Linked DNA regions of Homo sapiens: region 2 is reported to be linked to region 1. Evidence: microRNA targets listed by miRTarBase, many of them from high-throughput screens and not tested one by one. Region 1 holds a microRNA gene; the other region holds the end of a gene's coding sequence.
The links. Region 1 holds the annotated microRNA hsa-miR-1258 (AGUUAGGAUUAGGUCGUGGAA, at 1,481-1,501, shown strand). A microRNA usually pairs through its seed, bases 2 to 8, with sites in the 3' UTR of a target mRNA and lowers its output. Matches are read on the target gene's strand: a 7mer-m8 pairs with bases 2 to 8, a 7mer-A1 pairs with bases 2 to 7 and ends in A, and an 8mer does both.

Region 2: miRTarBase lists ZNF281 as a target of hsa-miR-1258. The part of its 3' UTR that is shown has no 7-base or 8-base seed match.

The regions. Positions count from the first base shown.
Region 1 is chr2:179,858,867-179,862,345 of GRCh38, reverse strand. It overlaps MIR1258 (microRNA 1258), which reads left to right and starts at 1,438; the gene lies at 1,438-1,510. It overlaps ZNF385B (zinc finger protein 385B), which reads left to right and starts at 734. Exons shown (of 10, transcript NM_152520.6): 1 at 734-1,245.
Region 2 is chr1:200,404,456-200,407,455 of GRCh38, forward strand. It overlaps ZNF281 (zinc finger protein 281), which reads right to left. Exons shown (of 2, transcript NM_001281293.2): 2 at 496-3,000. The coding sequence ends at 2,563. Among named protein-coding and RNA genes, the nearest start is that of ZNF281, 4.1 kb to the right of the region's middle.

The DNA.
Region 1 (3,479 bases):
CATTAACAGCTGCAGGATTATTTACGTAGTGTCAATCATCTGAGACAAGAACCAAAGAAAAATATTTTAAGATCATCTGGTTAAAAAAAAATCCCTGCTATATAACACAACTCTCTTGTCATTTATGACTATTGAACTTCTCCCCAAAGAAGTAATCTCAGAAAACTGCTCTTTTAAAATTATTTTCCCTTTCTTAAGTGTTCTAAGTGCTTTCCCTTTCAGAACCAAGCACCTTGGCCATGTTTGCACTAATTTTCAGAAGATGCCCTCTACATCAGGGTAACCGATGACAGGTTTTAGTTTTGAAAACTTAAACACGGAAAAGAAATCCGGCGAAAATGAGCCCCCCGCCCACAACCCTTTCAGATCTGCTGCGAGGCTGCGATGCCTTCTTGCGCTCCGGGCCTTCCCGGCTCCGCCAAATATGCCGAAGCTGCTAGCTGTGCTCTGCTAGCCCAGGGGTGGTCAAAGAGGAAAAACAAATAGTTGGTCTGACGATCTCCAAGAAGAGAGTTTCACTCTGGGTTGACTAATATTGGAAGCATCCGCCCCATCGCGGGGCTTGGCATCTAGGCTTTGGGACCTCTGCCATTGCCAAGGATCTCTTCGGGGACCCGAGCCCCCGGGCTGAGGACCGCGGGGGACCCCAGGTCGGGACGGAGCCTCCTCTGGCTCGCTGTGCGCGCACGCCTGGAAAGGCGGGATTTAAGGCAGCGATGCTGCGGGAGGCTCTGCAGTGTCAACGAGCCCCCGAACGGTTCCGCCTCATTCCCTCTCTGTGTGCCTCGCAAGTCTCTGCTTAGTAAACCGTCACAGCTTCGGCGCGCGAGAGTGGCGTTGGCACGTCCAAACCCCGGGGTCCTCGGCCAGGCCAGGGGGGCGGGCGTGCGGCGGGGCCGGGCCGGGCCGGGCGCGCCCAGCGGGCTCCGGGCACACGCCCCTCACCTGGGCGAGGCCCGGTGCGCAGGCGCTCAGCGCGGGGGCAGCGGCCGGGCGCTTAAGCCCGGCGCGGGCAAGAGTTGGACAGTTCAGGGGCCGCGCCGGGCCGAGCTGTCGCCCGCGCCACCTCCACCGCCGCCGCTGCTACCGCCACCGCCACCGCCTGGGCTGCAGCAGATCGCGGGAGAACGTCTGCGCGAAGCCCCGGTGCAGCCCTGGCGGGACCGCAGCAACCACCGGAGCGTGAGCAACAGCTTCCCGGCTGGAGGAGCCACTGCCCCACGCGCCCGCGGCCCGCGCGCCGAGGTAAGCTCTGGGCGCCCAGCCCAGACCGGCGCCCCCGGACTGGGCGCCCTCTGCTTGCCCGGCCCCCGCCCTCCTCCGCAGAGCGAGCCTGCACCTGGGCGCGCCGCCCGAGGGAATGGCCAGGAGCCCCCCTCCCGGTAGAGTTTGCACTTTGTCTCAAGGTCCCACTTGTAGAGGAGGGCGCCCAGGCGCCTGTGGCTTCCACGACCTAATCCTAACTCCTGCGAGTCCCTGGAGTTAGGATTAGGTCGTGGAAGCCACAGGAGCATACTCCTCTGTTCCCCAGGGTAGGCTCCAATTCCCAAGGACGGATGGAGAGGGGAAAGGACGAGGAGAGTGCCCCGCTATGTTTAGCCGCAGCGCCTCGTCACCTGGGCTGGAAGTTTGGGGTTTGTCTTTCTCTCAATGACCGGGAAATGGGTAGTTAGGGGACCGAGGTGTGTGAGGAGGGTAGCGGTCGAAGCTTGGGGTCGTGGGAGAGTTCTGCAGCAGAACCCAGATGAGATGGGGGCAGAGGAGCAGAGAGAAGGTCCCCGAAGTTTGCACTTGTTGGGAGCCCTGACGGGCGGCCTCGGCCACTAAGCGCTGGTGAAGGTGTCAGGGAAGGGTGGGAGGACACTGTGGGACTGCGGAAGGGACGAGGAGAAGGGGAGGGGGAGGACCATCTGTTTCGCCACTGTTATGTGCGGGGGCCTGTGGGGAGAAGGGAGAGCTGGCAGGACGATGCTTCCCTAGACTCTGGAGGACACACAGTTTTTATGGTGAACCTGGATAGGGAGTGCTGTTCTTCAGGGGAAATAAATTGCCAAGAAGTATCCCCCCTCTCCCCACGCCCATGAATACAAAATAACGCAGTTTTGGAATGCTCTCAAAAGTTCTTGGGTTGGGAAACGTCTTCTTTCATTTTCATACAGAGATGAGGTTTGCATTTCCTTTTGGTTTTGCTTTGCTGAGGAATATCACACCAAGGGGAATGCAAACTTTGTCAAGATGTAGTAGCAAAAGATGTTCCTATAGAAGGAACAAAACATTTCTGTTATAGGGCCTAGCCTAAAGCGTGGAAACTGGCAGCGTCCACACAATTCATGAAACGGTAGGAAATGCATTTATCTAATTAAAAAGAGGGCTTTTCATAAAGTCAATAAGCTACATCTTAGGTAAGTTAAAGGCTTTGGCTTGAAAGAACTCCCTTAAATGTTCCAAGGCCAAATTTCACTGGTTTTCAGAGTCCTTTAATCTTATTTTGATGCCATGTGTGCGTTGAGTATGTGCTGCCCCTTCCCTGTAACAGATAAATGCCTTTAGAATGCAAAATACAGCATTGCAAGTTCTGTTACTTGAGGTTTTTAAGATGAAAAAGATGCTTATTTGATCAAAGTGTTGGTTGTTTTTCAGATTCTATATTCCCATAAATTAAATATTTGTGGATTTATAATTTACACTCTTACCTATTTCCAAAAGTGATTTGAGGAAGCTTGGGATAAAAACCACAAATCAGATAGCTATTCTTGTAGATCTCCTTGACCTCTCTTGGATGCATTTGTAGTAAAATGCTTTGGGGAAGGTGAATTCTCCTAACAAAGGAAAAATTACTGTCCATGTTGGAATCATCTTGGTGATACAATGTTTTGCAGCATAGTTTCTTATGTGCTTTGTTTGCAGTATATTATTTTACATTACATAAGTAATGATCTCTTTATAGAAGTTTAATAACCACTAAGTATCATCTATATTGAAAAAAATGTTGATATTTTACAGCATTTTAACAATATACAGATTCACAGAGCAAAAAGAAAACAATGAATTTAATGTATTTTTCTTCAACTGAGGTACAAAGGAAACCAAACGGAGGTGTCTCCTCTATAGTCAAATCAGAGAGGGAATTGTCATTAGTACCTGTCACCCAAATATGGCCAATTAGTGAGACCTGTCAGCAGCTGGAAGATAACTTTAAAAAGTGTAACTATTAAATGAGGATCGATCAAAGCATATCAGGTGCTCTCAGCATTCTTTTTCTCAGGCAAGTGACCTGATTCAGAGAAAAAAAAATCTTTCAAAACAATTCTGAAAGGTGAAATGCCTGTACAGACTAATGCTATGTGGAGTTGGGCACCATGAAAAAGACAAGGATCTTAAGTCCCTGGACTGGCCACCCCGCCTCCCCTGCCCTTAGACTTTTTTTCCAAGCTGAATTTGAAGATATCATTGCTTGATTTTTCATAGCAACAATTTAT
Region 2 (3,000 bases), not on the chromosome of region 1:
ATATAAATTTGAATCCTTTTTTTTTTTTTTGAAACGGAGTCTTGCTCTGTCGCCCAGGCTGGAGTGCAGTGGCACAATCTTGGCTCACTGCAACCTCCCCACCTTCTGGGTTCAAGCAATTATCCTGCCTCAGCCTCCTGAGTAGCTGGGACTACAGGCACACGCCGCCCCACCCAGCTGATTTTTTGTATTTTAGTAGAGACGGGGTTTCACTGTGTTACCCAGACTGGTCTCGAGCTCCTGAGCTCAGGCAATCCACCCGCCTTGGCCTCCCGAAGTGCTAGGATTACAGGCGTGAGCCACCACTCCCGGCCTTGAGTCCATTTTCAACTAAAATAAACCTAGAAACACAAAATACCTAAGTTAAAAAAATACAATTAAAATACAAGCCTCTAAACTGCAGGTTATACCACGGATGTGAATATTTTAGAAAATGTTAATAGAAAATTCTGAAAAACGTTACTGGATATTAAGTAATATCTCCTTTCTTCAATCTTGTGATTAACAGGACTTTTATTGGTAGTAAACTAGAGCAAACAATCAGAATAATACATATGCAGTATTCAGTACACACAATAAAAGTTAAAGAAATTCAAAACCTGTATAAAACAAACTGGAGAAAAATCATACAGCTTAAGAGATACAGTGGTAAAGGTCCTCTCCATCCTTTGATTACAGCTTGTACTCTGTACTCAATAGAACTTACCGCACTTACTGAAATAAGAAATAAACACTTTTTAGTACTCAGCGTATTTAAGATTAAGTACATTTTCTAAGAATCTTGCAATGACAAGTTGGTGACCCTTTAGCTGCTAAAGCTAAAGGGAGGAAAGTGGGAAAAGGAAATTAACTAATACTTTGTAACCATTTTTAATATTTCTTATTTTCCAAACACTGCTTTTATAACAGAAGTGTTTTACACTTGCACAATATTAATTACTTTATTATACATGGAAGCCTGCGGTAGGCTGATTACACAATAAGACTGCAAACAACCAGTGGTACTTTTCTGACGTCAGAAGAGTACATAAGACTGAAACATCACCAAAAGTACATAAAAAACTCATCAGCATAAACATCAAAGTACATTAAAAAATATAATCAGGAAAAAAATACAATTGCTAAAAAGCAGTTTTAGAGTAGAGCCACTGCCAATCAGTAGCTTCAAATGGCAATTAGAGTTCATAGCAAGTTTTGATGACTTTACAAGACCCCTGTACAATACTAATGCACCCTTTCATTAAAATGTACATTAAAGGCCGCAATTTCACAAAGAGGTTCTGATGTTATTACTATAAGCAGACACATTCTTATCCCTCACAGGAGTTATGTCACCAGTTGGAATTACAACCTTATTAATATCTATCCAAGAACACGGGGTTTTATTACATATGGAAATCTGTATGGGTTTTTTTTTTTTTAAAGGTGGGTTTTGGGGATGTTTACCCTATTGTTTTTTATTTGGATGCCCTAAGGCATATAAAGCGCATAGTGAATTACCTACTGGAATGTAAATGGTTCTAAAATTAAAACTGTTAAAATAGAAAGAGGGAAAAGGAAGGCCCAAGAACTCTTAAAGAGAGGCTGAGAACAAGAACAAAAAAACCCAGAAGTGTAGGTAATACGTAACAGCGCAGACAGAACCGTTGTAGGCCATGTATAATAAATAATGCATGCCCCAAATTTCAGTTAATCATATAATTTCAACTTGAGTTCTAATACTGGAACCAGCCAACCACTTGGGCTTCAACACTGTACTAGATGTCAGTAGAATCGCTTGATGGAATTACAGCCTTGTTACAGTTGAGATCAAGAGAGGGTGCTTTTTTTTTTTCCTTCTTTTATTAAAGCTATCATTCCAGGCTTTGATCAAAGATCCAAGAATATTTGTTCTACCAGGCTGGAATGAATGTGGTTTGGAAGTTCAGAGTACATTTAAAAGCTGCAACAAAATATAGGTAGCCAACAATCTCAGAATTTTGGATCAGCCCAGATGGAGATAGCAATTTGAAATGTCTTCGATCCCTTACTTAAATGACGAAATGTCTATCAGCCCAGATAGAGCAATTTGAAATGTTTTCGATCCCTTACTTAAATGATGAAATGTATATCATACTATCTGTAAATTGGATATTCCATTACAGTGATAACGTACAGAATTCCCATGCGTTATTACACTTTCCTGAGAGTAAAGCAATTAGAATAACCTTAATCCTAGCAACAAAGTTTTTTTTGTAGGTTTTTTTTTTTTGGTTTTTTTTTGTCTTTTTTTTTGCGTTTAAAACATTTGGGCTATTCCCTGACGATCTATACATGTAAATTTGATTGCTAAACATTGTCACTTTGAATGTCAAACTATTTTTAATCTATTGATTTTGATTAAAAATCATAATACAAACAGAGCTAAAATCACGCTAACAAAATAAACTAAATATGAAAAGTTGCATTGAAAGGGCATCACATTATTCTTAATAGGATCGTGTAGAAACATTCCAATGGCAGTGTTCTCAAAATAAAACAAAATTACATTAGAAGACCTCCAGCCTGGCCACTTTTGGGACCTTACCTGTAACTCTGGCTGGTGGGTGTCTTTACTCTTGTACTACATGGCTCACTTACATCAGACATCATATTTGTATACCCTGAGAAATCTGACACTGAAGTCCTTACTCTATGGTCCACTTCTCCATTAGAGTTAGTGATAAAGGTCATTGGCACCCTGCTGCCCGACTTAAACTGAGAACCAAACGCTTGTGCAAAGTTCTCAATCTGATACGTTGTTCTAGGCTCTATGTCTTTCTGAGGATCTATCTGGCTAGCTAACTCCTGAGATGGAATCTGAAAGCCTGTTGAAGACTCTAAGTTTTTCTGTTCCTTCTGGCTAGTCAATTTCTGAGATGAGGACTGGAAGGCTGATGAAGTCTCTAAGTTCTTCTGAGAATCTATCAGATCATCCAGCTCCTGGGAAGGTGTCAACTGCTGATGTGTAGCATCCAAAGC